Linked DNA regions of Homo sapiens. The protein of the gene in region 1 purifies or fractionates together with the protein of each later gene. This does not show direct contact. Each region holds a gene or a part of one and is shown on either strand. Other genes may lie near its edges.

Region 1 (7,996 bases):
GCAGCAGGGAGCCTCCGATTAGGGAACAAGAGAGCGACATGCCCAACATGGCCTGTCCCTCCTTGGCAATGAGGTGACCAAGCTAGAGGCCTTGTTGAATATGGCTACGAGAGTCCTGAGGAGCCAGGCTGCACGGGGTGCCGATGGCAGTGGGGATAAAGGGAGAGGACACCTGTGACAGGCACAGCCTCCAGTCTCCATGAGCTCTCAGCCCATGTGGAGAGGCGGGCCTCCTCTGTGAAGTAGACCCAGGCAGCGCTCAGTGGGCTGTGCGGGAGTAGAAAGGGGGAACAAACTGGGAGTGGAGGGAATCACATCTCCAGTCCCAGACCACGTTCAGGAGTGGTCGGCACCTGGACGGACATCCTCTGGGATCTGTCACCAGCCCCACCTTCTCAGGCCTGACTGGCCTTAAGTGGGGCCCAGTGGACAGCAGAGGGGTTTAGTGAGCAAAGCTTCCTGGGGAAACTGGGGTTGGATGCTGCAGCCCATCCAGGGAGGTGAGCAGTCCAAAAGCAGCGAGACCCTGCACTCCTTGGCACCCCACTCTGCCTCCATGTGAAATGCAGAGAAGGAAGTATGGGCCCCTTGTCTCTGCCAGGAATGACAGCTAGCATTTATTTGCCATTACTGTATGCCAGACTCTGAGCGGCCTGTTTCATCCTCATCATGGCCTATATGATGAGGGAGGTACTGTTATCCAACTCCTCCCTCTCCTTCCTGTTGAGAGAGGCCCAGAGAAGTTCCATTTCTCGTCTAAGGTCACACAGCACAACATATTCAGTGGCACACTGACTAACACGACACAATACTGCCCCTACAGGCAGAGCCGGGCTAGAGCAGAGCATTCTGCTGGCTTTGAAAAGAGATCCCAGCCTAGTGCCATCAGCCATTACAGATATTAGTGTCCACCAAAGTATGGGGGTGGGGGGGACTGCCAAGTAAAACAGAATTCACCCTGGCTCTTCCCCTTCACCCAAGCCTGGCCCCCTGGGCTGGGCTGAGCCAGGCTAGGCGAGGCCACCCACCCTGAGTGATCCTCCATCCAGAGCAGTGGAGCAGGGCTCCCCAGGCCCGAGGTGAGTGCCACCTGTGCTGGGTGTGGCGTCTTGAGCGCTGCATGGTTCTGATCCTGACTCAGCCCCTCATGTCCTGTGCGACCTGGCCTTCCCGCTCTCCAGGCCCTGGTTGCCTCCTCTGAGAAGGGCGTAAGTGGGCCGGCTGGCCTCGGAGGCCCCTCCTTCCAGCTGGGCCCCGGCAGGATGCACAATCAGCTCATTCTTTAGTGAATGCACTGGGGGCCCAGCGAGCGTTTATGAAGACATTTCGAAGTGGCTGCTCTTGGGAAACCCCAGATGGAATTTGGTGTTGAATCTAGGGGGCCGCTGACTACATGAGGCCTCTGGGTTTCTGTGCTCGTGTATGCCTGAGCACCTGCACACGCTGCCCTCCTGGTGCTAGGTGACGTGCCAAACAGAAGATGCTGGCCTTGTCCAGGACCCTCCTTCCTCTAGAACAGCCCTTCTCTGCTCAGTCTAGGGGGGTCCATGGTGCTCCCACCCCCTTCTGACCTCACCCACCAAAAATCCGAGGGCCCTGGGGCCATGATGAATGCTAACAGGCCCTGGTGTTCTTGGCCTGGCCTGGGACCACCCACTTCCAGGCTCCTCATCTTGTCCCCATCTGCAGGAAGGAACGTAGGGCAGTTTGGTGTCATGGAACTGGGGGCCCAGCCGAGGGGCTCAAGAGCCCTTCAGACTCTGCCTGGTGAGTCAAGTGCTAAGGACCTCACTTCTTCATTGGAAGATGTGGGGTGGGGGTGGAGTTTGTTCCTAGGACATTGTAGCGATGTGGATAGCATTGCCAGATTTTGTTTTGTTTTGTTTTTCTTTTTAGAGCGAGGGTGGTGCTCTGTCACCCAGGCTGGAGTGTAGTGGTGTGATCTCAGCTCACTGCAGCCTTGAACTCCTAGGCTCAAGTGATCCTCCTACCTCAACCTCCAGAGTAACTGGGACTACAGGTACATGCCACCACACCGGCTTAATTGCTTTTGTTTTCTTTGTTTGCAGAGACAGGGTCTTGCTATGTTGCCCAGGCTGGTCTCAAACTCCTGGGCTCAAGTGATCTTCCTACCTCGGCCTCTCCAAGTGCTGGGGTTATAAGCGTGAGCCACTGTGCCTGGCCTGGTTGCCAGTTTTAACAAAGAAAAACACAGAACATCCCATTAAATGTGAATTTCAGATAGAAAAGTAAATTTTAGCATAAGTATGTCTCAAATATTGCATGGGCCCAGGTGTAGTAGCTCACGCCTGTAATCCCAACACTTTGGGAGGCCAAGGTGGGCATATCACTTGAGGCCAGGAGTTGGAGACCAGCCTGGCCAACAAGGTAAAACCCTGTCTCTACTAAAAATACAAAAAATTAGCTGGACATAGTGGCACATGCCTGTAATCCCAGCTACTTGGGAGGCTGAAGCATGAGAATTGCTTGAATCTGGGAGGTGGAGGTTGCAGTGAGCTCACACCACTCCATTCCAGTCTTGGTTCTCAAAAAATATATATATATTGCATGGGACATAATTATACTAAAATGAAATTATTCATCGTTTATCTGAAATTTGGATTTACCTGGGCCTCCTGTCTTTTGTCCGGCAACCCTAGATCTGGGTCAGGTTGATGCCAGAGACCCAGAGAGCAGCTATGCCAGCCTCCTCCCCCTCCTCCTGCCCCTCTTCAGGGCACTGGTGCCCGCCTAGTTCCCTCACCCCCACTCCTGCTGACCCCCCACATCTGTCCCTTGAGTTCCCACATGCCCTTCTCAGCACCCTCATTTCACCCCGCAGGGTATCTTCCTCCTCTAAGCTCAACCATTTTCCCATTTTCCTCTCCCGTAAGGGCCACACCTCTGTAGGGCTCCCAGCCTGGGCAGGATAGCAGGGAGTGTGGGGTAGAGACCCCAGGCCTTGCTGTTGCAGTGGGGCCTGGGTGGGGACAAGAAGAACCCTGGCAGCCCAAGTTGGCAACGACTCAAGAGGTGGAGGCTCCAGCACTCTCAGGACGAGGTCCCCCTGCCAAGGTCCACCTGCAGGGGAGGAGGGGAGACGGCGGCCCCTTCCCTTCTCCAAGCTCACAGTCACTTCAAATACAGAGGGGCCAGATCCCAATACCCCTCGGATCAGGAGACTAGAAGATTATCTTCTTAAGGGGCAAAAAGGGCTAGGAGGTAATGGGAAATAGAGACAGGGAAAGGGAGAGAGAGAGCAGGGAGACAGCATAAGAAACAGACCGAGAGACTGGGGGTGCAGGACCAAACCAGGGACAAGGAGAAGGGACCAGAGAAACCGAGAAAAACAGACGCCTCCGCCGAGGCAGACAGAGGTGAACAGAGAGAGGAGAAACAGACGGGAGAACAGAGGGAAAGGCTGGGAACTCGAGAGAAACTGGGTGCGGACAGATGGGAAGAAACCGAAACAGAAAAACAGAGGCTGGGAGAAACGGGGAGAGACACAGAGGGGTTAAATATAAGACAGAGAACATGACTGGGAGAGATGAGGGAGAAGGGTGAGAGGCAGAGAGCAAGGAAAGAGAAGAAACGCCCACGACGTCGGGGGTGTTTTTCAGGGGTCAAGACAGATTGGCGACACAGCAGGAGGCGCCCAAGGACATGACGTTGAGCCTCTCAGGGTCCCCCTTGGCCGGGCCAGGGAGCAGCGCCCCACGCTCCATCACCCCCTCTCCCCCTCCCGCGGTCCTGGCTGCACTGCTCCTGCCTCGCCCTCGCCCAGCGCCCCCAGCCCACAAGCCCCGGCCGCGCCCCTCCCGGCTCCCGGGGGCACCCGCGCTGGGCGACGCTGCCACCTGCCGGCCGCTCCCGGAAGCTCCGCGCCTGGAGTGCTGGAGGCGGCGGCCGCAGGGGGCTCAGAATCAGGCCCCTCCGCACTGGGGCGGCCTCCGCGGGGTCTTTCCAGGAATCTGGATGGGCCTGCTCGCCCGCGCCCCGGCGGGCCTGGCAGAGGACCAGCCCCAGCTGCGGACCCCGGGGCAGTCTAAACCCTGGGGCCTTGAGTTCCCGTTTTGTCAATGGGAGAAAATGCACCAACACCTCCTGTAGGATTTCAAGAGGGGAGGGGACACGAAGGTACCCACGTTGTGCTCCTGGTCTTCCTTCCTCGACCTGGAAATCTCAGGGCACTCTGAAATCAGCCAGGCTGCTCTGTCCCTCCCTTTTTGGTCAAAACACAATGGGGTGATATCCCCCAACCATAACCCCTCAAAATCTACCCTAGAACCTTCGCCTTCCCCTCCCTCAACCTCTGCCCCCATTTGACTTCTCACCAGACCCAGAGGTCCAGATAAGAAGGGGCTTCCACGTCCCCTTCCCACTCCCGCCGGTCCCGGCACCCCTCCCTGGAGTCTGGGGCACTTAGGAGTGGAGGAGTTGGGAGTTAGGAAGGCCCAGCTCAGCGGTGTGGAGTTGATCCCACCTCTTTTTAAATTTAGGTTATTTATTTATTTATTTATTTATTTAGAGATGGAGTCTCACTCCGTCGCCCAGGCTGGAGTGCACTGGCACGATCTCGGCTCACTGCAACCTCTGCTTCCCGGGTTCAAGCGATTCTCCTGCCTCAGGCTCCTGAGTAGTTGGGATTACAGGCACCCGCCACCACGCCCGGCTAAATTTTGTATTTCTAGTGGAGACGGGGGGTCTCACCATGTAGGCCAAGCTGGTCTCGAACTCCTGACCTGAAGTGATCCTCCCAAAGTGCTGGTATTACAGGCGTGAGCCACCGCGCCCGGGACCGCTTTTTTAAAAATCCGTTAATCTCTTCTACCTCCCAAATCCCAAAACCCAACCCAGACCTCTGCGCCTCCCTTCCTCCCTTCCTCCTCCCAGCCCCTCCCTGCCCCGAGTCCGCCTCTCCCGGTGCAGCTCCGCCCCCATCCCGAGGCGGGGCCCCATAGGTGGAGAGAAGTGGGAGAGGTCGCAGCCCCGCCTTCTCTACACAGGAAAGCTCAGTGGCCCCCAAGCCAGGATGTCCCAAGCTTGGGTCCCCGGCCTCGCGCCCACCTTGCTGTTCAGCCTGCTGGCTGGCCCCCAAAAGGTGAGACTGGGAGGTAAGGTTGTTGAACTTTTGGGCCCTACCCTTGTAGGTCAGGAGCCTGCTTCTGGAGCCTGGTCGCCACCTTCCAGAATCAGGATTTCCTCCTGACCACACACAGTTAGCTACTTCCTTTCTCTCTTTGCTGTGGAGGTGGAGGTGGGGGCAGCGGAGGAGGCTCTGGGAGAGGCTGGGTTCTCCCACCTCTGAGGGGGATCCTGTGGTGGGAAGTGGCCACCACCCACCACCTTATCTGACACCTAGCACGTCTCTGTGAATAGGGACTTTGGACCCCTTATTAGCCTCAGCTTATCCTTCCAGCTCCTTCCCGCCTGAGCTTTGGACACCTGGGCCAGCACTTAGCCCCAGCTCAGTTCCTCCAGTGCTGGGGGACCCTGGGATGTCCCCACCCTCTTTGGGACTGTGTCTCTGCTTGTTCCCTAGGGGAGAGAAGGCTCTTTTGTCCCCTTCTAGGGGTAAGTAATCCCAGCCTGTGGTGGGATTTGACCTGGCTGCCTGACCAAGGCTGGGGTGACCTCTGAAATCTGTGATTTTGAGAGGGAGGTGTAGGGTTCGAGTGTTCCCTCCGCCCTTCTGTTCCTCCCAAGTAAACTCTACAGGTGATGGGGGAAAGCTGTCCGGTCCTGGGATGGGTGTTTATCCTGGGAACAGAGACGGGTCTAGAACATGCATTTGTGTCTTATTTCCATTTAAGAACCGGAGGGAAGTCAGGGTCTTCCATAGTTAGGATTTTAGAACAGGGCACCTTCACACATCTGGGCTGAGCTTTCAGAGAGGCTCTGCCAAAACCCTTCCGTGGACCCGGGTTAGTGAGCAAGGTGTTCCTTCTAAATCACTGGGCGGTCAGTTTGTGTCAATGCTGGGCTGGGCATCCTCTGGTTTACCCCTCCCACCAACCCCAGGGGCGAGGTGCTGTTAATACCTTCAATTCTGGAGTTAAGTAAGCTGAGATTTACTTACTCCCAGCCCAAGACCACCCTGACGCTCCATAAAACTCAGCCTCTGAACCACCCCAGACAAGACTACCCCCTGGTTAAAATGTGGGGAGACAATCTGGGAGAAGAGCTCCTCCCCCTCCCAAACCGGAACTTGAGATTAATTTACTAAACCTGTTAATTATCCATTACTTATTAGCTGGGGTCCAGGAAAAGGACAAGGGCCAGAGTGGGGTCTGAGGGGGAAGGGGTGCTGTTGAGTGCCTGGATGGACCCCTCGATTTGTCTCCAAGTTCCCTCTCTGTATATATATATTTTTAATTTAAAGAATAGAGGCCAGGCGCAGTGGCTCACGCCTGTAATCCCAGCACTTTGAGAGGCCGAGGCAGGCAGATCGTGAGGTCAGGAGTTTCAGACCAGCCTGACCAACAACCCCATCTCTACTAACAATACAAAAATTAGCCAGGCATGGTGGCACGTGCCTGTAATCCCAGCTACTTGGGAGGCTGAGGCAGGAGTATCACTTGAACCTGGGAGGCGGAGGTTGCAGTGAGCCGAGATCGCACCACTGCACTCCAGCCTGGGCAACAGAGCTAGACTCCATCTCCAAAAAGAAAAAAAAAGAAAAAAGAAAAAAGAATAGAGACAGGGTCTCGCTATGTTGGCCAGGTTGGTCTTAAACTCCCGGCCTCAAGCAATCCACCCACCTCAGCCTCCCAAGGTATTTAGGATTACAGGGATGAGGCACCGCACCCAGCCTGTCTCCAATTCTATAGTCATTCCTGTGTGCTGTGTGATTTGGATTCACAGACTCACCCTTTCTGGGCCAACCTGCAGGGGTTCCTTCCTGTTCCTGTCCCCACAAGGGGACAAAGCCTGTGAGATGGTACTCAGCCTGGGACTGAGCGTGGAAAAGGGGAATTACCCCAACTCTTATTGGCTATCACTGGTATTCTTATCTTTACTGTTGTGATTTGCAATTGAAATATTTTATAAAGGTATAAAGATAAAGATAACGGTGGTTTTGCCAAAGCTGGCTTCCTATTTTTTAGCCTTGGTTGTTTGTCCCAGGAGGCTAGGGTGGGGTGAGAGATGCCCTTCCCCACCACCCATTTCCTATGTTCTGGCACCTACATCCCTCCCCCACAGTCTGGGAGCAGCCAGGATGAAATGAAACTAGGTAATTGATGAATGCACGTTCATTCATTCTGCAAATATTTTGACTACTGGGTTTTCAACAATGATGCAGCAAAAATCCCTGCCCTCGCGGAGTTTGCCTTTTACACAACTGAAGGACAATTAACAAGATAAAGTAAATATATAGTATGTTAGATGTTGACAAGAGGTGTGGAGAAAAGTTAAGCACACTAAGGGAAAAGGGTGGTTGTAATTTTGAATAAGGTAACTGGAGAGGGAGGAGCTGGAGCCAGCCTTGCAGCCACCTAGAAGAGTGTTCCAAGTCAGTGTGGCTTTGACACACAATTGCTATCAATGGAGGGAAATTCTGTAAGATGCCCTGGGTGCCCTGCAGACCTGGTACAGAAGAGGGGGAAGCTGATTTGGGAGGCGGGGTCCTGGCAGCTTTGCAGAGCATGGAATCCCTTAGGCAGGGATCTGAAGGATGAATGGAGGCTTGGACAGGTGTAAAACAGCCAGGTATGTTCAGGGAACTCCCAGCGGGTGTGTGTGAGAGGAAGAGAAAGAACTAGGGGAAGCGAAAGGGGAGGGAGTGCAGCTGCTCACTCGGGAGGTCTCTACCCCAGGGAGCCACCGAAGGGGGCTTCCAGCAAGATTCTTTGGTGATGAGATTTGCATTATAGGAAGAGTCCTCCTGCCCACAGTGTCTGCAGTGACTGAAGGTGGGATAAGGAAAGTCGCTAGTGCCCTGAGCCATGGGTGTCACGGTGGAAGCCAGGTTGGAAGGGTGGTCAGAAGGGATGAG
Region 2 (7,027 bases), 7.6 Mb from region 1:
GCCCAGCCTCCCCTGGGGCCATGAGGATCAATATTTCCTTACAGAGGGCTGAAAGAATTCCAGGGATTGACATCCAGGTGCTGGGGAAGACCCCCCTAGAATCTCCCTACCCCATCCCCCCTGTGAGGGCAGCTTGGCCAATTTACCCACTGCTCCTGGCTCTTTACCAGCCTCCTGGGGCAATGATAACTCAAATGCAGCATAGCCACGTTCTAGGCAGTGTGCTGAGGATTATCTTATTTCATTCCCATTGAAACCCCCTAAGGGATACATCCAGATGAGGGCTTAGGGCCACGGAGAGGATGGGAGACTTGTCTGAGGTCCCACAGCTGGGGAGTGCGGAGGCCTTGTCTGAACTGGTGCGTGTTCCCTATAAGTGGCAAGAGTGCAAGGCTTCTGGAGCTTCTCAACACTCAGAGAGGCCCAGAACCCGAGGGAGCTGTCCAGAGGGCTGCTAATGGGGAAAATGTCGGTCTTGCCATCTTCTTTCTTCCTCCCCTGGGGGTGGCCCAGGTCATCTTTCTCCGAGGGATTGCCTTTGGCAGAGTGAGACCTGGGTCCCTCCATCTCTGTTAGTAAATTACTGGAGGGGCAGAGAGATGATGGCTTTACTCCAGAAGGCCTTAACACAAGTCACTGACCCCTGTGTGTGATGACACTAGGACAGCAGACAGTAGCCCAAGGCATCAGCTTCTGGGGCCTCCTGGCCCTGAGGTCTGTGTTAGAGGCTTGAGGGCAGGTCCCCAGAGCCCAGGACAAAGGCAGCTGTCAGGGTGGAGCCCAGGCGAAGCTGCATACTCTTCTGATGTGTGTGGGTTCGTGGAGATGTGGGTGTAGGGGTGTTGGGGTGTCTAAAGCCGGCTATGGGAAGCCATGTCATACTTGGCTACCTTCCTATGTTCCTTCTCACAGCAAAACTCTTGGACTGATCATTTGAAGTCACCCCTCTGTGTCTTCTTGTGAAATGGCTTGGGCGTCTCTGGGCTCTGACTTGCTCATCTGGGAAGAGATGGGGTAGAGGGAGTTGGATTATAAATCATGCTTCACTCAGTCAACAGAATGCTACTCAGGCACTAAAAATGATGGCGTAGCCCTACGTATTCTGACATGGGAAGATGGCCACAATATCTTATTATGTGGAAAAAACTAGTTGCATAGGATTTATGGTTTGATTACATTTTAGTAAAATAAATTCATTTATGGTGGTATATGCAAAGAAAAAATAATGCCGGGCGCAGTGGCTCACGCCTGTAATCCCAGCACTTTGGGAGGCTGAGGCAGGTGGATCACTTGAGGCCAGGAGGTTGAGACCAGCCTGGCCAACATGGTAAAACCCCATTTCCATTAAAAATACAAAAATTAGCACCAAGCGTGGTGGCACGTGCCTGTAGTCCCAGCTACTCAGGAGGCTGAGATGGGAGACTTGCTTGAACCTGGAAGGTGGAGGTTGCGGTGAGCCAAGATCACGCCACTGCACTCCGGCCTGGGCTACAGCCAGACTCTGTCTCAAAAAAAAAAAAAAAAAAAAAAGAGAAAAAGAAAAAGAAAAGAAAAAATCGAGATGTAGACACACTAAAGTGTGAACAGATTTTCTCAGGGGTTGATGTACTCACAAAAACATCTTGGCCAAGCATTGAAGCTCATGCCTGTAATCCCAGCACTTTGGGAGACCAAGGTGGGCAGATCACCTGACGTCAGGAGTTTGAGAACAGCCTGACCAACATGGCAAAACCCCATCTGTATTAAAAATACAAAAAAAAAAAAAAAAAAAAAGCCAGGCGTGGTGGCGTGTACCTGTAGTCCCAGCTACTCGAGAGGCTGAGGCAGGAGAACTGCTTGAACCTGGGAGGCAGAGGTTGCAGTGAACCAAGATCACAGCACTGTACTCCAGCCTGGGCGACAAAGTGAGACCGAAAAAAAAAAAAAAATTTCTGTATCAGCTGTTAAGATTGTGACTCCAAGTCCTAGAAAAGTGAAAACAAGTTTGCACCTGTTTCATCAAACTCAAGGATATTATTTGATGGAATTGTCCCTTAAAATAAAGCTGCCACTGTCAGAAGTTGGTGTTTAGGCGCATTCCATTCCCAGTGGTCTGTGCTAACAGAAATGCAACCTTGGCAGTGATTTACATGCCTGGGTTTGAGTGGGCCGGGTGGTTTTCTGTGGCAGATTAAGGTCCCTCATTGTGCTTGATTTTCAGTTCCACCTATACATGTTGTCAGGACACTGTGCTGACCCTGGGGGCTGAGGGACACACATTGGCTGGGGCAGGAGAACTGGGCTTGGTGGGGATAAGAACAGAATTTATGGCCGGGCACGGTGGCTCACGCCTGTAATCCCAGCACTTTGGGAGGCCGAGGCGGGCAGATCACGAGGTCAGGAGATCGAGACCATCCTGGCTAACATGGTGAAACCCTGTCTCTACTAAAAATACAAAAAAAAATTAGCCGGGTGTGGTGGCGGGCGCCTGTAGTCCCAGCTACTCGGGAGGCTGAGGCAGGAGAATGGTGTGAACCCGGGAAGCGGAGTTTGCAGTGAACCGAGATCGTGCCGCTGCACTCCAGCCTGGGTGACAGAGCGAGACTCCGTCTCAAAAAAAAAAAAAAAAAAACAACCAGAATTTATGATGTATATGGTTTCTCAAGACAACTTTGAGAAAAAACTTCTAGAATTTTTAAAAATATGTAAGGACACTGAGTGTTCCATAAGAACAAACGTGTCTGTGATATAAATAAAACATGTCGGCCTGACATTGGGGTAAGGAAAATGAACTCCAGGGGTTGACAATGGCCTTGCATCTCTCTTTTGGGCTGGTGCTTCTCAGGGGAATGGACTGAGTTTTAGGGCCTGACATGAGTTTTCCAAGAGTGGGAACTGGGCCTCCCCTATTAGCCCGAGGCTCTGCAAGGATGAAACCCTGTTTCCTCTCTCAGGCTGGAAGCTCCCGGTGACACTGGAGGGTCCCGCTTCTCATCACTGCTGTCCCCGGGGTTCGATGGAGCTCTGCACAAGATTCCTGCCCTGGTGGTGGGACCACGATGTTGGGGCAGTGATGTGGGAAGATGAGAACAGGGACTAGAGATCAGAGAGGCAGGACATCTTTAAAGAGCCCCTCCTGCCTCACTCAGGTCTTCAGGGGTCTTTGGCAGTATGTGTAATGGTAGAGACCAGTGACTTGAGGGCCATATGTCCCAGATTCAAATCCTGGCTCCTCCACTAACTCAGCGTCTATACCTCACTTTTCCCATCTGCAACATGGGCATACTAGCACATACCTTACAGTATTGTCATGAGTTGGCCCACATAGAGCACTTAGGATGGCACCTGGGTCGGAGGAATCCCTTGCTAACTGGTGGCTGTCCTGTGCTAGTAAAGAACTGTGGGGATTTCATTACTGAAGCCGGGGAGAAAGCATGAGGAAGAAGCAAGCCTCCCTTGCCCGTGGTAGGGGTCGCGGTTCCCTGCCCTCATTTCTTAGTAGCCCTTGGCCGCCACCCTGAGCTCATGTTTTGTTAGCCTCGGCCCTGACTCCATCTCTTTCGGTTTCAGGTGGGACCATCCGTGAAACCGGTGCCAGGATGCACCGGGGGTGTGGATGACCGGCCGCCCAGCCCCAGCACGGCCCGGTCCCGCATGCCACCGCCCCGCGAGGACCGCTCTCCAAGGGCTGCCTGGGGCCCCGCGCCCGTACTCTCCTAACCCGGAGCTCTTGGCAGCCCATTGCTGCCTGGCTACCCGGGGAGGAGGAGGCGCAGGAGTGAGCTGCCCGAGACCGCAGGGCAAGTAAGCGGCTGACGGCGGAAAGACCCTGGGGAAGGGGCTTTGCGGCCGGCTAGAAACATTTTCCCCAAGCGGCTCCGCAAAATGACCAGCCTGTTCCGCCGGAGCAGCAGCGGCAGCGGCGGGGGTGGCACCGCCGGGGCACGCGGGGGCGGGGGAGGCACGGCCGCCCCCCAGGAGCTCAACAACAGCCGGCCTGCCCGCCAGGTGCGCCGCCTGGAGTTCAACCAGGCCATGGACGACTTCAAGACCATGTTCCCCAACATGGATTACGACATCATCGAATGCGTGCTGCGCGCCAACAGCGGCGCTGTGGACGCCACCATCGACCAGCTGCTGCAGATGAACCTGGAGGGCGGTGGCAGCAGCGGCGGCGTCTATGAGGACAGCTCCGACTCGGAGGACAGCATCCCCCCGGAGGTAGGGGCGCAGCCCGGGTAATTCCAACCACCACTGGAGGACAGCATCCCCCCGGAGGTAGGGGCACGGCCCGGGTAATTCCAACCACCACTGGAACCTCTAAGAGGACCTGGGTTACTCCGCTATCTGGGTTCTAATTAGCAAGCAGCCTTACTTCCCCTAGGGAAAAGTACCATCCGTCAGTCACCTTATTTTATGGGCAGAAATCATGCAGTCATTCAACAAACACTGAGCGCCCACTCAGTGGTGTGCGAGACGTGGCACTAGACCCTGAGTCAGGAGGCATCAGAATCAAGGTGCTTGTTAAAAATGCAGGTGCCTGGGCCCCACCCCAACATACTGAACTCCACATCAGGCGTAGAGTCCGCTAGTGGCCAAGTCAGACCAAATTTCTGCCCTCCTGGAGCTCACAGTCCAGTGTGGACTAGAAGCGCGAGTCGGGTACTGACGGCCAGAGTGGTAAGTGCTCGATGGAGACGTGGAAGCAGCAGAAAGGAGTGACTTCCCAGAGGAAGCGATGGCTAAGCCGAAACCCTAAGCTGAGACCCAAAGGAAGAGTGAAGCCGGGGGAAGGGTGTGCAGGCAAAGGGAACAGCTTGTGCAGAGTCTGGGAGGTGAAATAGTGCCTCACTGGCTAGGGAACTGGCAGCAGGACCATCTGTCAGGGTCCTAGAGTGAGAGGAGATCAATGAGGTTGACAAAGCCCTGACGCTGAGAAAAAGAGTGCGGCTGGGGCCGGGCGAGGTGGCTCATGCCTGTAATCCCAGCACTTTGGGAGGCCGAGGCAGGTGGATCATGAGTTCAGGAGTTCGAGACCAGCCTGGCCAATATGGTGAAACCCCATCTCTACTAAAAATACAAAAATTAGCCAGGCGTGGTGGTGCGCACCTGTAGTCCCAGCTACTCGGGAGGCTGAGGCAGGAGAATCGCCTGAACCCGGGAGGCAGAGGTTGCAGTGAGCCGAGATCATGCCACTGCACTCCAGCCTGGGTGACAGAACAAGGCTCCGTCTCAAAAAAAAAAAAAAAAAAAAAAAGAAAAGAAAAAGAGTGCGGCTGTATCCTGGGAGCATAGCCACGGAAAGGGAGTGAGGAATCAGACTTGCCAGTTAAATCCCTCTGACTGTGGCCTGATGGAAACAGTAGTGAGCCATAGCCAAGCAGTCTCTCCAGGGAAGTGGCTGGAGAGAGGGGACCTGCGTACTGCATCAGTACCCACCTGCTGGAGGTTGTGAGTCCTTTCCAGTCCCACCCGAGTTCAGTGGACATCTGGCCACCCAGTATCAGCAGAGCCTGAGGTGCTTGGTGCAGAAGGATGAGGCACACAGAGCCTGTTAATCAGAGGGGTGTTGTCCACAGGGCCATCTGGGACATGCAGCCATGGACAAGACCAGGACCCAGCAGGATTTAACTCCACTCTTTATTGAGTCCCGACCCGTGCCAGGCATCATCCTAAGTGCTTTAGATGTATCATATCTTCTTTTTTTGTTTGTTTTTTTGTTTTTTTGAGACAGAGTCTTGCTCTGTCGCCCAGGCTGGAGTGCAATGGCGCGATCTTGGTTCACTGCAACCTCCACCTCCCAGGTTCAAGCGATTCTCCTGCCTCAGCCTCTCGAGTAGCTGGGACTACATGCATGTGCCATCATGACCGGCTAATTTTGTAGTTTTAGTAGAGATGGGGTTTCACCATGTTGGCCAGGCTGGTCTCGAACTCCTGACCTCAGGTGATCTGCCCGCCTCGGCCTCCCAAAGTATTGGGATTACAGGCATGAGCCACTGCACCTGGCCCGATGTGTCATCTCTTCTAATCCTCACAAACTTTGTGCTGTGGCATTATTATTACCCTTGTTCATCAGCCATCCTGCAGGGCAAAGTCTCCTTGCTTTTCCTCCTTAGTGGGTGCTGCTGAGACTTCCCCTAGAGGTGGAAAAGCTCTGTTGGCCAAGACATCTGGCTCATCCCTGTGTCATCTGCAGCACCCAGGACAATCCACGCACATAGCAAGCACTCAGGGAGTGTTTGTTGAATGAGTACGTGTTGCTGCTGTCTTTGTACAGTTTTCTATTGTCTCTCTCCTTGGGAGACCACTCCTTTGATCTGCTTGGAGTAGGTGGTGGAAGGAATATTGGAAAATATGGATCCTCTTTGTAGAAAGAAGGAGAGAGAGAGAGTGAGAGTATGCGTATGTATGTGTGTGTCTGCAGATACAGTTGACCATTGAACAATGCAGGGGTTAGGGGCAGTGAATCCTCCCCTTGCAGTCAAAAATCCACTTTTTAATATAACTTTTGATTTTCCCAGAAATTGACTGCTAATAGCCTATCGTTGACCTCAAGCCTTAACTCAAGCCTTAACATAAACAGTCGACTAACATATATTTTGTGTGTTGTATGTATCATATACTGTATTCCTACAATAAAGTAAGCTAGAGACAAGAAAATGTTAAGAAAATCATAAGCAAGACAAAATATATTTTCTACTCATTAAGTGGAAGTAGATCATCGTAAAGGGCTTCATCCTCATCTTCTCACATTGAGTAGGCTGAGGAGGAGGGACAGGAGGGGTTGGTTTTGCTGTCTCAGGGGTGGTGGAGGTGGAAGAAAATCTACCTATAAGTGGACCCACGCAGTTCAAACTCTTGTTATTTGAGAGTCAACTGTATATGCTTTAAGTGTGAACTGGAAGGAAAGCTCTCTGCAAGCTCTGACCCTTTCTGCAGTCTGATTTGCCCTGACAGTCTGGCAGGTAGGGTAGTATTTTCTCCTTTGTCCATGGCCCCCACAGTCCTATAGACCTCTGCAAGGCTTCACCACCCCCTAGGTAGGCCC
Region 3 (7,027 bases), on another chromosome or scaffold:
GAAAGTGTATGAGGGGGCCGGGCGTGGTGGCTCACACCTGCAATCCCAGCACTTTGGGAGGCTGAGCTGGGTGGACCACTTGATGTCAGGAGTTCAAGACCAGCCTGGCCAACATGGTGAAACCCCGTCTCTACTAAAAATACAAAAATTACCAGGATGTGGTGGTGGGCGCCTGTAATCTTATCTACTCGGGAGGCTGAGGCAGGAGAATCACTTGAACCCGGGAAGCGGAGGTTGCAGTGAGCCGAGATCGTACCACTGCACTCCAGCCTGGGCAACAGGGTGGGACTCTGTCCCCCGAAAAAATAAGAAGAAAAAAAAGAAAAAGCCCACTCGGGCTGCAGGTGCTGGAGCTGGGCAGGCAGCAATGGGAGGACACCATCAGGAGACAGTGACCGGGACAGCTAGAGACCTTGTTTGGGGGCAGAATCCACAGGACTGGATATGGGAATGAGAGCAAGGGGCACCTCTAGCTGGGATGTGTGCAAGATGATGCTACTTTTGCAGGAGGGGGGTTCTTGTTTTTATGAGGAAGGGAGAGGGACACAGGTCGGGGCATTGAGGCTCGCCTGGAAACTTCTCAGAGCAGCTACTGAGCAGGCTGCTCACTGAGGGTCTCATGATCTATTCCTCTGACCTTGGACTCAGCACTGAGCTGGTGTTCAAGGCCATGACGGTGACTAGAGTCAGTGAGGGAGGGAAAGAAGGGGGCCCAGGACTGCATCCCAGGGTCTCGCCTGGCCAGGCCAGGAGGTGAGCTCTGCTCTGGAGTCACAGGACCTGCACTCACCTCCTGGGATCCTTTACAATCCACCAGTTATTGACATCTTTGAAGGGGTAACAGGTCACCTGTTGCTGGTGGGAGCTGCCTCGGCCGTTCTCATATCTGTGTGAAGTCAACAAAGAGATGTATCTGGGCCAGGCGCGGTGGCTCAGGCCTGTAATCAGAGCACTTTGGGAGGCTGAGGTAGGATAACTGCTTGAGCCCAGGAGTTTGAGACCAGCCTGGGCAACATAGTGAGACCCTGTGTCTATTTATGAGAAAAAGAAAAGAAAGGGAAAGAAACGTATCTGGAAGTGGGTCATCGATCGGGCCCACACGCCTTTCTCCTAAAGTTTCTGCAAAGGGAAGCAGATTTCAACAAATACAACCTAGCAAGGGGTTTCAGGGAAAATGAAGATACCACAGACAAGGAGCCGAAATCAGATGATTCAGGCAGGCAGTGCTGAGGTCAGCCACAGCCACAGAGCTGGGGCCGACCCTGGGCCCTGCCACACGCCAAGTCCCTCCAGCAACACCCGGGAACCACGAAGCTCACTGGCAATCAGCACCCGGGCTGCTCAACTTCTTTCTGTCCTGCAAACAAACTTCCTCAAAGAAAGGGAAAGTTGCTAAGATAAGCAAATCTACGAGCAAATAAAGCATTTAATTATCTTCAAAGTAAAACCATCACCTTACATCATGGGGTAGGTGTCCTGGTGGGAATGAAGCCAGCAGGGCACAGGTTTCCCAAAGACGTTCCTCAGAGTGACCTGGGACCCAAAGGCCACCTCCAGTGGCTGACCCTGAGTGATCCGAGCTAGTCCTCCCTGAGACAGAAGCAGAAGGTTGATGAGTGAGAGACAGAAAGAAAAATGACCCTAAGCCAGCCTTCCCGATGGCCACTCCTCCCTCTGGGGTGATGTTTAGGCTGGTGGCCATTCTTGTAACAGTGGTAATGATCTCCCATTTAATCACATCACGTTACATTATAGAACCATAATGAGCACTAAGTCTGATCAAATGCTGCCTCTGGGCCAGGCACTCAGTTCAGCCTTCCACGCGCACCCTATTCAGTCCTTACAAGCATCCAATGAGGTAAGAGCAATGATGATGTCTGTCTAAGAGATGAGAAAACCAAGACTAGGGTGAGCCAAACAACTTGCTGAAACACACAGCACTACAGCACTGGCCGTCGGCAGGCTTGGCTGACTTCAGGAACCACAGTCCTGACCACCTCTACTGATACCTTCTACCACTGCTGCGAGGTTCATAGGAATGAAGGTCACAGTTGAGTGTGGTCCTTAAGGCGGGTGAAACTGCCCAGGGTTTGTAAGACTTGACTTTAAAATGCTCCCAGCTGCCAGGCGCGGTGGCTCACGCCTATAATCCCAGCACTTTGAGAGGCCGAGGCAGGCGGATCACTTGAGGTCAGGAGTTCCAGACCAGACTGACCAACATGGTGAAACCCCATCTCTACCAACAAAACAAAAAAATTAGCTGGGTGTGGTTGCAGGTGCTTGTAATACCAGCTACTTGGGAGGCTGAGGTAGGAGAATCGCTTGAAGCCAGGAGGCGGAGTTTGGGTGACAGAGTAAGACTCCATCCCCCCCACCAAAAAAAGAAATATGGATGTGGATTCTTCATGTTTTGATTCAAGTGCTAATGTTCACTTGATGTGTTTGTAAGAAAACTCTGGGTCCACTATCATCTTCCTTCTCCAGTGGCCACGATGCCCACTGCTTACTTACCTCTAAGCTGGCCTGGAAGGCACTGGACATGATTTGGTCGTGGGGCCCAGAGCGGAAGACTAGAATCAAGTGGACGTAGAAGAACAGTAAGTACAGGACGACCGGGATGACCAGCAAAGCCACTGCTCGGGCGAGCAAGTGACAGAACACACAGACCTGCCAGAGATTCAAAGAAAAGTCATGTTCCACTGCGTGGAAAAGCGTACCCACCTCTAGACATTGTGAGCTTAGAAAAAGTTAGTGACAGAAACTCTGGCCTCCCATACAGAGGCACCTGCAGAGGCCAAGAGGCGAGGCTGCCCAGGCCTGCCTGCTTCTAAAACATTGAGGATTGGAGTCTTTTCACCAAGTACCCCCTGTGACATCTGCATCTGCCCCATACAGGCCGGCCTCATGCAGCACTGGACATCAGCACCTACATTGGACAAAGTCTGGTCTCCAAGCAGGTGCCAGGCATGGACAGCTGCAACACCCAGCACGAGCACGTACGTGAACACACCCATGTACTTGATGCTGCAAAGACATGACAGAAATGGAGTTAACATGAGACAGGAAAACATAAGGAGATGGAGGAGGACACTGCCCAAGACCAGAGGCTCAAACTCACCCCACTGCACAGGAACAAGCGACCCCTGTCAGTGTTAGCCAGAACCACCAGCTCAGAGAAAAAGGGCTGGAATAAAAACAAAGCAGATGGAGACAGAAATAGTTCAGACACATTTCCAAAAGGCTAGTGAAGCTCCACATTCTTCAGAGAAATCTTTCTGGGTCGGCTGGCCATGCTGAGCCACAGGGGCAGTAAGAAAGAATTCCCATCTCCCAAAGTATCCATCCCAGCAGAATTTTTCTTTTTGCCCAGAAAATGTTGTCCTGTTAGTTTAAATTATAGAAAAATGAAGATGTATTTATGAAGTCACAAGCCAAGGGCCAACCCCCAAAATATTAGAGGACCAAAAGATATCTAGCACTAGGCGCAGAGGCTCACACCTGTAATCCCCACACTTTGGGAGGCCAAGACGGGTAGATCACCTGAGGTCAGGAGTTTGAGACCAGCCTGGCCAATATGGTGAAACCCCGTCTCCACTAAAAATACTAAAATTAGCCAGACATGGTGCTGTGTGCCTGTAATCTCAGCTACTCGGGAGACTGAGGCTGGAGAATTGCTTGAACCTGGGAAGCGGAGGTTGCAGTGAGCCGAGATTGCGCCATTACACTCCAGCCTGGGTGACAGGGACTCCGTCTCAAAAAAAAAGATATTTAGCAAGCAACTCCTCAAAATGAAAAGGTACTGTCTCACAAAACGAAACAAAAAAAGGTACTGGACCATCTCAGATCAACAAACCACCCAGAATCTCTGTTCTCGTTAACTAGGAAGACACTCCATTTTCCATACCTGTGCTTTTGGCAGTTGAAGAACTTCAGGTAGGACAACACGGCCAATAGATTGAAAAATATTAACACTGATTCCAAAAGCATTAGCCTTGACTGAGTGATGAGAGCATTCTCTGTTTCAAAGAGGAAACACATGTCAATTTTAAGGTAGCAAGGGAAAACGTATGAGGATGAAAAACACTCATGAAAAAAGGCATTACTTCAGAAGCGATACAACTGTGTGGGGCTGTTGTGAATGTTAAAACATTCTATAGACACAAGGCCTCATACAGTCATCACCCAATACACATCTCTTTTGATTTTCTACTGTCTCTTTCTTTTCTTTGAGTCAGGGTCTTGCTCTGTCGCCCAGGCTGGAGTGCAGTGGCACCATCATGGCTCACTGCAGCTTTGACCACCAGGGCTCAAGGGATCCTCCTGCCTCAGGCTCCTGAGTAGCTGGGACTATAGGCGCATGCCACCACACCTGGCTAATTTTATTTATTTATTTTTTTGAGACAGAGTCTTGTTCTGTCACCAGGCTGGAGTGCAGTGGTACAATCTCGGCTCACTGCAACCTCCGCCTCCCGGGTTCAAGCGATTCTCCTGCCTCAGCCTCCTGAGTAGCTGGGACAAAAGGTGGGTGCCACCATGCCCAGCTAATTTTTGTATTTTTAGTAGAGATGGGGTTTCACCATGTTGGCCCGGATGGTCTCGATCTCTTGACCTTGTGATCCACCCGCCTCAGCCTCCCAAAGTGCTGGGATTACAGGTGTGAGCCACCGTGCCCGGCTTATTTATTTTTTTTGAGATGGAGTCTTGCTCTGTTGCCCAGGCTGGAGTGCAGTGGCGCAGTCTTGGCTCACTGCCACCTCCACCTCCCAGGTTCAAGCAATTCTCCTGCCTCAGCCTCCCAAGTAGCTGGGATTACAGGCACCTGCCACCACACCCAGCTAATTTTTTGTATTTTTCGTTATTTTTAGACAGGGTTTCACCATGTTGGCCAGGCTGGTCTCAAACTCCTGACCTCGTGATCTGCCCGCCTCAGCCTTCCAAAGTGCTGGGATTATAGGTGTGAGCCACTGCGCCCAGCCTAATCTAACTTTTCATCTGCTTTAATTTCATCTGTTCATAAACGTGAGCTGGAAGACCCTCTCTGAAGAGGATCCACTGACTCACGAGTCCATCTCAATTGGCCAAGGCCTGGGAGGTGGTGGAACAAGGGGAAGTTATCATTTGGTCACAAGATTGGTTGGAGATGGAGGTGCCCACGTGTGCATGGACTTTGCAGCAGCATCTGGGCAGTTTTCTACTGCCATACCCCGACTGCTGATAAGAGTCTGATCCCACAATTCAGCAATCCCATAACCACGGGGTCAGCCTGGGAGCGGGTGACTTGCAGCGTCAAATTTGGATGAACCAGATGCACTTTCTGGTGCAGCTCGCCCACCAAGCCCATGTGATCTTCCGGGCCAAAGGGTCAGTTCTTCCCTGCATGACAGCAAGAGCAGGCAGGGGCGCAGGTCTTACCGATAAGCATCAACAGAGCAGCTCCCATGGCGGCACAATGAGAAAAGTGGAGCTCCAACACTATCTGGTAGGCCATGGGGACCGACAAGGCCCCCGCGAGTGCTGGCAGCAGGCGCAGGGACCACACAGGCACGTTGCTACTGTATTCTGGAAAAGCAACCACACTGCAGAGCTGACTACACTGTGCACACACCATCTCTGTGTACTGCAGCTATGCTTTCACATAGCGCCGTCATGTTCACAGACTCTAAAATGCACGTTTACAAAACTGGGGACCCCATCAGCAGCAGAGTGCATAAACTATGGGTGAAGGCTTTGAAATTAGCTTTGCATAGTCATGGAACCCGATCTCATGAAGCATAGACAGGACTAAGGATTCTAAAATTTACCGCCTTACTTATACATATTTACCCTCCCTGTTTTCTTTTTTCTTTTTTTTTTTTTCTCTGAGACGGAGTCTTGCTCTGTCCCCCAGGCCGGAGTGCAGTGGCGCCATCTCATCTCACTGCAAGCTCCGCCTCCCGGGTTCACGCCCTTCTCCTGCCTCAGCCTCCCGAGTTGCTGGGACTACAGGCGCCCGCCACCACGCCCGGCTAATTTTTGTATTTTTAGTAGAGACGGGGTTTCACCATGTTAGCCATAATGGTCTCGATCTCCTGACCTCATGATCCACCCGTCTCAGCCTCCCAAAGTGCCAGGATTACAGGCGTGAGCCAGCGCGCCCGGCCTACCCTCCCTATTTTCAAAAACATTGTGGCAATGGACAAAATTCACATGTACAACCGATCATCACAATCAGACGCTCTGTGATACGTGTACCAACGACAAGGGCTGAAATAATGACTGCAACTGAACAGTAAGATTTTAACCAGACTTTCCAGAAGTCTTTCATTTGTATCCAACCAATTTATTATTTTCTGGACTCAGATTAATAAGGCACAGTTTCTGTGGGACTAGGTATGAAAGGAAAAAAAAAGCCACAGTTGTTAATCCTTACAAAAGTCACAATCTCTTCATTCTAACCTGCGCACATTAAAAGGGAAATGAAAATTATCTTTTACCTGCTCCAATTCTGTTCCACAAAAAATTGCCATCGAATCCTCCTAAATAACCTGAAACAGAAGATTAATCAGTAACTATCCCATTCAGCAAATATTTCTAGAGTACTGTGGCAAGCAATAAACAAGATGCATCAATAATAAGACCTGGTTTCTGCCTGTAAGAAATGCACTGATAAGTTTTAAATGTATTTGAGGTCCTGAAGGGTAGGGGCTACTCTCCTGATGACTCCTACCTCCCAAGGCCAGCACCATGTGGCCAAATGGCGGCCCACTGTCATCCAAGAAGAAGATTTGTTTCATGTAAAAAGAGATGTACTGCCCATAATATACTTCGTCAAAACTAGAAAAAAAAACAACAACCCATATTATATTCAATTAGAATCTTAACTGTAAACAAAAACTGTGAGGATAAATGTGTATGTGTTTCCAAATGACTTTGAGTGAGTGATCAGCAAAGGCTGGATCTTTTGCCCCAATTGTTTCCCATCCCCAAATATTAAGATGCATACAGCATCACCCACCCACAGAGACATGGGGAATTCACCAAGCACAGC
Region 4 (7,322 bases), on another chromosome or scaffold:
TGCTTTAAACATGGTTGCCAAGGGGCTTTGGAGAGCAGTGTTGGGAGAAGTGTCAGTCCCAAGGGAAAAAACAACCCCCTTCCTCCCACCCTCACCCTGTGTTTCCGGGGTGGAGATGCCATGCAGGGATGGGGGTTCTAGGAGCCGGGGGATGCTGGTTGCTGGGGGTGAGGTCCTCTCTGACAGAGCAACCCTTCCATCCCAGGCCAGCTTTGCACCCGGGCTTATCCGCCCCAGTCCACCCCACTCCAGCACTCATCCTGGAGGAGGCACATCTCTTACCAATTCGAACTCTCCATGAGCAGGAGCTTCGGAAATAGGAATAGAGGATGGGCTGAGGAGAGAGAGGATGAAGGCGCGTGTTAACCCATGCTGGGTGGGCTCCAGCTTGGGAGGAGTCAACCATTTCTTCCTGTCCTGCCAGGCCTCCTCTCTCAGGCCTGCATCTGTGCAAATCAGGGCAGACTCCAAGCTCTCTGAGAGGCTCATGAGGTCCCTTGGCTCCAAAATTATGCTGGTTTGAGCTCCTGAGGTCCAAGAGGCCCCCAAAGGGGCAGCTAGCCTGAGAGTGCCTTCCATACCTTGCCAGACTCTGTCATGGTATCGTGGTGACCCTCAGCCTCCCAGGAAATGTCCCCTCTGGCACAGCTTCTGAGCAGGGAAAGGAAACCTAAAGGGGTGGATTTCAGGAGCCAATGGGGAAGCTGGGCTACCCAGGCATTGGGGGAACTTTGACTCTGGTCAGAAAGGGCATTTCTGGCCAGGCACAGTGGCTCACGCCTGTAATCCCAGCACTTCGGGAGCCAAGGTGGGTGGATCATTTGAGGTGAGGAGTTTGAGACCAGCCTGGCCAACATGGTGAAACCCTGTCTCTACTGAAAATACAAAAAAAAATCAGCCAGGTGTGGTAGTGGGTGCCTGTAATCTCAGCTACTCAGGAGGTTGAGGTAAGAGAATAGCTTGAACCTGAGAGGTGGAGGTCACAGTGGGCCGAGATCGCACCACTGCACTCCAGAGCGAGACTGCGTCTCAAAAAAAAAAAAAAAAAAAAGGCATTTTTTTCCAACTCGCAGGAAGTTTCTTACGCTCCTGCTGGGGCCAGGTTTGGTGTCCCCCCAACAGAGCGTGGCCTGGTTTTGATGCAGTATTTTGAGTGGTGGAGCGGGCTGGGAGCTGGCATCTGGAGTCTGGACCTGGTGCAGGAACCAGCTCTGCATGACCTTGGACAAACCTCTGCCTTTTTAAATCTTCGGCTCCCTCATTTGTAAAACAAAGGTTGCCCTAAAATGATGGCAGGGCATCCTCTAGCAATGCAGCAAGACAAGGAATTCTAATTTTTTGACGCTTTGGTACATATCTCCTTCAACCCCACCTCCCAGCAGTCCTCCGGGCTCTCGGCTGTCCCCATAAAAACAGCTGGCAGATATGCTCACTCACCCCAAAGGTGAGGTCAAAAGCTGGCAGCTCACTGGGGCCCTATCTGGCCCTCAGAATTTCTGTTTGCTCAACACAGTAGTTTAAAATGTTTCAAGTAGTTGCCAATGTTTAAAAATCAGGACATTTCATTCTAGTATGGTGGGTCATGCCTGTAATCCCAGCACTTTGGGAGGCTGAGGCCAGCAGATCACCTGAGGTCAGGAGTTCGAGACCAGCCTGGCCAACATGGCGAAACAACATGGCTAAACAAAAATTAGCCAGGTGTGGTGGTGTGCATCTGTAATCACACCTACTTGGGAGGCTGAGGTATGAGAATTGCTTGAACCCAGGAGGCGGAGGATACAGTGAGCCAAGATCGTGTCACTGCCCTCCAGCCTGGGGGACAGAGCAAGACTCCATCTCAAAATAAATAAATAATAAAATAAAATAAAAATAAAAATCATGATATTTTATATACAACACCTGTTTGTTTTTTTTCTTTAAAAAAATCTGGAGACAGATTTGGGTTCCTAAATAGCAGCAATTGATGGGAACAGACTAATGGCCCCCATCAACCAGCGTATGCGCTCTCAGGTCTGCCATGGCCCATATCTGGCCCACTTTTCTCATTTTTGTTACCTTTGGGCCCTTGGGGGCAGCTGGGTGTGCGATCTCTACTCCAAGGTTTAAGGGGCTCAAAGTTAATTTCTCTGGTACTTCTTCGGGAGCCAGCATTTCAAAGTGGAACCCAGGAAAGACTCGCCAGTGATTAGCACTCATGAATCTTCCCACCAAAACATGTGTATCCCTATGGATAGGGGAGAACTTGAAAGAACTTCTCAGATGCCCTGTTTACTACCCCTCTGACTATAGACATTTCACCAAAGCTCCCTCTCCCCTCTGCCACCCCTAGCATATTAAGCTGCTCTCTGAACTTGCTATTGCCATCCCTGTACTACCAACTCAGTCTGCTAGATGGCAAGGGTGTAAGTGGGAACCTAGGCCCTTCCAAGATGGTTCCCAAGCCCAGCAGTCCCAGCCTGTCCTGAAGGTACCTTTTGTGGAGAAAGTAAAGATGGTCCTGGCACAGAAAGCAGGTGATGGGCAGAAAGTGTCTTTCGAAGAGGAGGAATTGGGTGGCCACAACTGGATCTTCCTTATTTGGAGATGCAACTCCCTTTCCTTACCTAGCCAGGCTACAGGGACTCCTGGTGCCAAGGGACAGGGACTGCTGGTGACCACTAGAGTGTGGCAGACATTAATTAGCTTAGAATCCCTGAAGAAATGCCTTACCTAATGGCTAAATGCCTTTGGATTACACCTTTGGATCTGTACTACGAGTGACCAGAAGCATGGTAAATGCTGCTGCCCTCCGTCACGACCCACAAGCAGGAAACCTGAAATCTCTTAGGCAATTTCTGCCTTCTCTTACCAGTGATAACTATGTAAACCATGCCCCGTTCCTTTCTGCACTTGTAGAACTAAACTTTAAGCCCAAGTATCCATCTCATCAGCACTCCTAGAAGACCTGTGTTTCCAATTCAAATATGCATTCTGATTACTTTAGCAGATTTTATTTTTAAACCATGTCTTACACATGATTTGAGAAAAAGACTCCTAAAATCCCATTTGGAAGAGGGAGGACTATACATTATTAACGTGACGCAAAGTCCCATCTAACGTGCCACCTTCCTTAGTGCCACAAAAGTGGTTCTCAAACTTCATGGCACGTTAAGAACCATCTAGACCGCTTATAAAAACATGCAGATTCTCGAGCCCGTTCCACCAGAGATGAACAGAGTGGCTCTGGAGCAGGCCCCGGGAAGAACATGTGAAAGCCGTGAAGCTCCCCAGGTGATTGTCATGACTGCCTCTCCTCGCTCGGGGCCTTTTTTTTTTTTTTTTGAGCCGGAGTCCCGCTCTTTCGCCCAGGCTGGAGTGCAGTGGCGCGATCTCGGCTCACTGCAAGCTCCGCCTCCTGGGTTCACGCTATTCTCCTGCCTCAGCCTCCCGAGTAGCTGGGACTACAGGCGCCCGCTACCACGCCTGGCTAATTTTTTTGTATTTTAATAGAGACAGGGTTTCATCGTGTTAGCCAGGATGGTCTCTATCTCCTGACCTTGTGATCCGCCCGCCTCGGCCTCCCAAAGTGCTGGGATTACAGGCGTGAGCCACCGCGCCCGGCCCGGGGACTCTTAAAATACAAACATTACTGGAAGGTCACCTCCTGCTAGGGCCAAGAGAAGAGCATGAAGGGCTGCGAGAAATTGGGAGGCTTGGGGCGACGTTTGGAAGCCTTAGTGGAGGGAGGGGTCTGTTATGGGGAGCAGGGAGGGCGGAGCAGAAGTGAAGCGCGACCGGACAGCGACTCCACCCTGCTACGCACTCCCTACCAGGACCGCCTCCTCTGGCCCAACCCTCCCGGAACTTCGAGCCCCAGCGGGCAGCGCGCAGCACGCAGGCGCAGAGCGTGCCCGGCGCAAAGCACTGCATGCCGGGAGTCGTTGTCGGCCTGGGCGGGCGGTGCAGCTCACTTCTGACCCCGCCCCCCAGGGTCTCCAGGTGTCTAACCAGCTTCCCTCCACCCGGGTGCGCGTCACAGACCTTCCCCGCCTGCATCTGGCACTTCGCGCGACCCCCTCCTCCAGGCCGAGAAACTTCGCGCCTGGGACCTGCCGACGACTAAGGCTCAGTGAGACTCGACGAATCAGGCCCGTGTCTTTCGTCCGGGTAAAGCGAGGGGCTGGACTAGAAAGATCCTTCCGGTCGCCTCTGGCTCGCCCAGCTCTCCCGCCACGCCCCGTACCTGGGGGCTGCTGGGAGTTGCAGTTCCCTGAGCCCGACCCCTCCTGCCCAGTCCCCCCCGCCCCGGGCCGGCCGGCCCTCCCGGTCCCGACATGCTCTGCGCCTCCTGCCGCCTCCTAGCGGCCCGGGCCGCGACCACGCTGCCCGCCCCGCCCCGAGCCCGGGGCCCCGCGCTCCGCTGCAGTGAAGGGCGTTGCATTTCCCGGGGTACCCCGAGCTGCCCTCTTGTGACTCCTTGGCGGGGCGGCTGGTCAGACAAAGTGTGCCTCCGGGCCGGAGGGCGACCCAGAGGAGGGGGAAGATGCCGCCGGCCACGGGCGGAGGCCTGGCAGAGTCCGAGCTGCGTCCCCGGAGGGGCCGCTGTGGCCCCCAGGCTGCTAGGGCCGCAGGCCGGGACGTGGCCGCTGAGGCTGTGGCGCGAAGCCCCAAACGGCCTGCTTGGGGCTCACGGCGCTTCGAGGCGGTCGGCTGGTGGGCCCTGCTGGCCTTGGTGACGCTGCTGTCCTTCGCCACCCGCTTCCACCGCTTGGACGAGCCGCCGCACATCTGGTGAGTGATGGGAGGGACTCGGCGGGCACCATGGCAACCGCGACGGGACGCCGCCCTCTGATTGGCCCGAGGGTACGGAGGGGGCGGGATCTATAGGAGGAGGGCCACGGTGGAGGGGAACTTGAGGTATCGGGTGGGTTGGCCTCTGGCGAGGTGCATTCTCTGGGAGGGGGATCGTTTTGCTCTGGTGGTGGGGCAGTGGGATTCTTAGTATCTGAGGAAGCAGCCCTCATGTCTTCCAGGTTATGCTACAGTGCATCACCTGGCTTGCAAATTGTGGCTTTTAAAGGTGCTTTCAACTTTCCAAAGAGAATTGCAAATTTTTGGGTACAGAATTTTCTAAGGCCTGAGTTCCTATGTCTGCAGGATTTTCAGGCATCAACAGAGGAGAAAATACCTAACTGTGTACCTTTATCCTATAGGGCAAGGACAGTTTGGGTGTTCAGGTATGGTGACCAAAGGATTTTATGAGGCAGAACTCTTCTTGTGAGAAGAGATTTATTTTCTTAAAGGTTTTAGCTTGTACTATCCAGATACTGGGTGTCAGAAATGGAATTCTTTAAGCAAAAAGCAGGCAAGAAAACAGACTGTCAGGGTTGCTTTATTTAGAAATTAATAAATTAGCTTGTTATTGTGTCGTGACTGCTGGCAGAAGATGAGACTCCTGGGTTAGAGACAAAGGACTTTATTACAGGAAATAGGATGCATGTTAGAAGCAGTTTCCCTTGCCATCCAAGTCCCACAGGGTGACGCTATGGGTTTAAATGGATGACTGCACAGGCAGTGGGTTGCATCCAAGTGAAGGAACGACAAGCTTGGAAAATCTGCTGTTTTATAGAAGGCAGTACGCAGACCTCCTCTTTGTCCTGGAGGGAGACACTGCCTCTTCTCTCAAAGTTGCTTGCTGCAAACACAACCATGAGAAATGGCCCAGGTGAGATGCAGTCAGGGCCTTGCATTCTTGGTATACCCAGAATGATGTGTAGAGGCACGAGCAATCTGACAGCCTCTCTCACTCCTCGATTCTATGGTCTTGGCTTCTAGCAGATTTTCACATGAATATACAACTCCCCTGGCTACTCACATCTTTTCAGTTTGTCCCTTACAGCATTTAATTAAGGTTGTTGTCAATGGGACTCTAAGCAGCAGAATAAGGCCAGCTTACAGTATTTACCTCAACCATGCCCTCCAGGGTCCTGGATTCAGCCACTTGTGAATAAGTCCTGGGGGCACCGAGGAATCTTATTTCAGACATCTGGGCTGCAGTCTAAGACCAGTCTATTAACCACTGTGACCTGTGCACAGGGGTTCAGATTGATCTCTGATCTTTGGTGTCATTACCAGTAATTACAATAGCCCACTACCCTTGTAAAAATTTTTTTAAGAAAGTAATTACCAGGCTGGGCGCAGTGGCTCACACCTGTAATCCCGGCAGTTTGGGAGGCCGAGGCGGGCAGATCACCTGAGGTCAGGAGTTCGAGACCAACCTGGCCAACATGGTGAAACTCCGTCTCAACTGAAAATACAAGACTTAGCCGGGCATGATGGCGGGTGCCTGTAATCCCAGCTACTCGGGAGGCTGAGGTGGGAGAATCACTTGAACCTGGGAAGCAGAGGTTGCAGTGAGCTAAGATCGCACCATTGCATTCCAGCCTAGGCGACAAAGCCAGACTCTGTCTCAAAAAAAAAAAAAAAAAATTAACTACCATGATTAATGGAAAGATATTTTGTGACCCATTCTTCCTTACACTAACATATTACTTGGAGGAGTGCAGGCCACTCCAGGATTTTTGTTAGATTTTTATTTGGATCACCATCAAATTTGATTACCATTACAGTGGTTTAAACCACATGGGCAGTGTCACTGAACAGTTGCAGCCTCAATCACTAGACAAGGCATAACCTAAGTAAGGCCCTTAGGATCTCAGGAGAAGCATGTGATTTGTATCAGCCGCATTGATAGAAGGTGGTGCTGATCTGTGTGTTTGCACACCTATGAGGGAGGTCTGCGTTTGGGAGTTGGTGTTGATGTCATCAGGCACGTGGGAATAGTTCAAGACTGGCCGTGTCCATGTGAGTTTTTGTTTTCTTTTTTTATTTTCTTTTTTATACTGACCTGCTAGATAAAGTTTTTATGTTTTCATAGTGAGATGACAAACTCAGCCACAGGTCAGATTGCCAGCCACAGTTGCTGCTTGACCTAGATGGACCATGTGAATGTTTGCCAGGCTTTGGTGCTGGATAGGGACAAAGAGAACATTGTTTCCCTTCTCTTTACATCTCCAGGGTCCTGTGGTGTTCCTTCCCCAGATGCCAGGATTGTTTCTTTCCTTCCATTGCTACATAATGAGTGTGTCCTACCCTAGTAACTATAACTTCACCTTTTCTCCATTTATCCCCTACCAATACGCAGGCCTTCTAATATCCAATTGTTAGAAAATTGACAGAGGCCCATTATGTCTTCTACCTTGACACATGTGGGCCACTGTAGGGGGACTTTAAAAGCACTATACCCAACCAAATGATCATTAACTTTATGTTCTGGCACCAGG

Evidence for each region.
Region 2: the proteins of TMEM92 (region 1) and CUEDC1 purify together in Homo sapiens (affinity purification with mass spectrometry; 3 studies listed by BioGRID and IntAct, with this or other methods). This does not show direct contact.
Region 3: the proteins of TMEM92 (region 1) and POMT1 purify together in Homo sapiens (affinity purification with mass spectrometry; 3 studies listed by BioGRID and IntAct, with this or other methods). This does not show direct contact.
Region 4: the proteins of TMEM92 (region 1) and POMT2 purify together in Homo sapiens (affinity purification with mass spectrometry; 3 studies listed by BioGRID and IntAct, with this or other methods). This does not show direct contact.

Annotation. Positions count from the first base shown.
Region 1 is NC_000017.11:50,269,470-50,277,465, forward strand, and holds the start of TMEM92 (transmembrane protein 92 precursor), read left to right. Parts: upstream 1-4,996; 5' UTR 4,997-5,032; coding exon 5,033-5,101; intron 5,102-7,996.
Region 2 is NC_000017.11:57,882,402-57,889,428, reverse strand, and holds part of CUEDC1 (CUE domain-containing protein 1), read left to right. Parts: intron 1-3,549; 5' UTR 3,550-3,864; coding exon 3,865-4,200; exon of another isoform or gene 4,201-4,257; intron 4,258-7,027.
Region 3 is NC_000009.12:131,505,900-131,512,926, reverse strand, and holds part of POMT1 (protein O-mannosyl-transferase 1), read right to left. Parts: intron 6,814-7,027; coding exon 6,707-6,813; intron 6,525-6,706; coding exon 6,474-6,524; intron 5,577-6,473; coding exon of another isoform or gene 5,560-5,576; coding exon 5,413-5,559; intron 4,017-5,412; coding exon 3,905-4,016; intron 3,185-3,904; coding exon 3,119-3,184; intron 3,025-3,118; coding exon 2,931-3,024; coding exon of another isoform or gene 2,786-2,930; intron 2,668-2,785; coding exon 2,512-2,667; intron 1,591-2,511; coding exon 1,460-1,590; coding exon of another isoform or gene 1,455-1,459; intron 887-1,454; coding exon 791-886; intron 1-790. UniProt on the Homo sapiens protein: Transfers mannosyl residues to the hydroxyl group of serine or threonine residues. Coexpression of both POMT1 and POMT2 is necessary for enzyme activity, expression of either POMT1 or POMT2 alone is insufficient.
Region 4 is NC_000014.9:77,317,882-77,325,203, reverse strand, and holds the start of POMT2 (protein O-mannosyl-transferase 2), read left to right. Parts: upstream 1-4,320; 5' UTR 4,321-4,522; coding exon 4,523-4,770; intron 4,771-7,322. Other genes in the region: GSTZ1 (maleylacetoacetate isomerase), read right to left, coding at 283-334, 582-599. UniProt on the Homo sapiens protein: Transfers mannosyl residues to the hydroxyl group of serine or threonine residues. Coexpression of both POMT1 and POMT2 is necessary for enzyme activity, expression of either POMT1 or POMT2 alone is insufficient.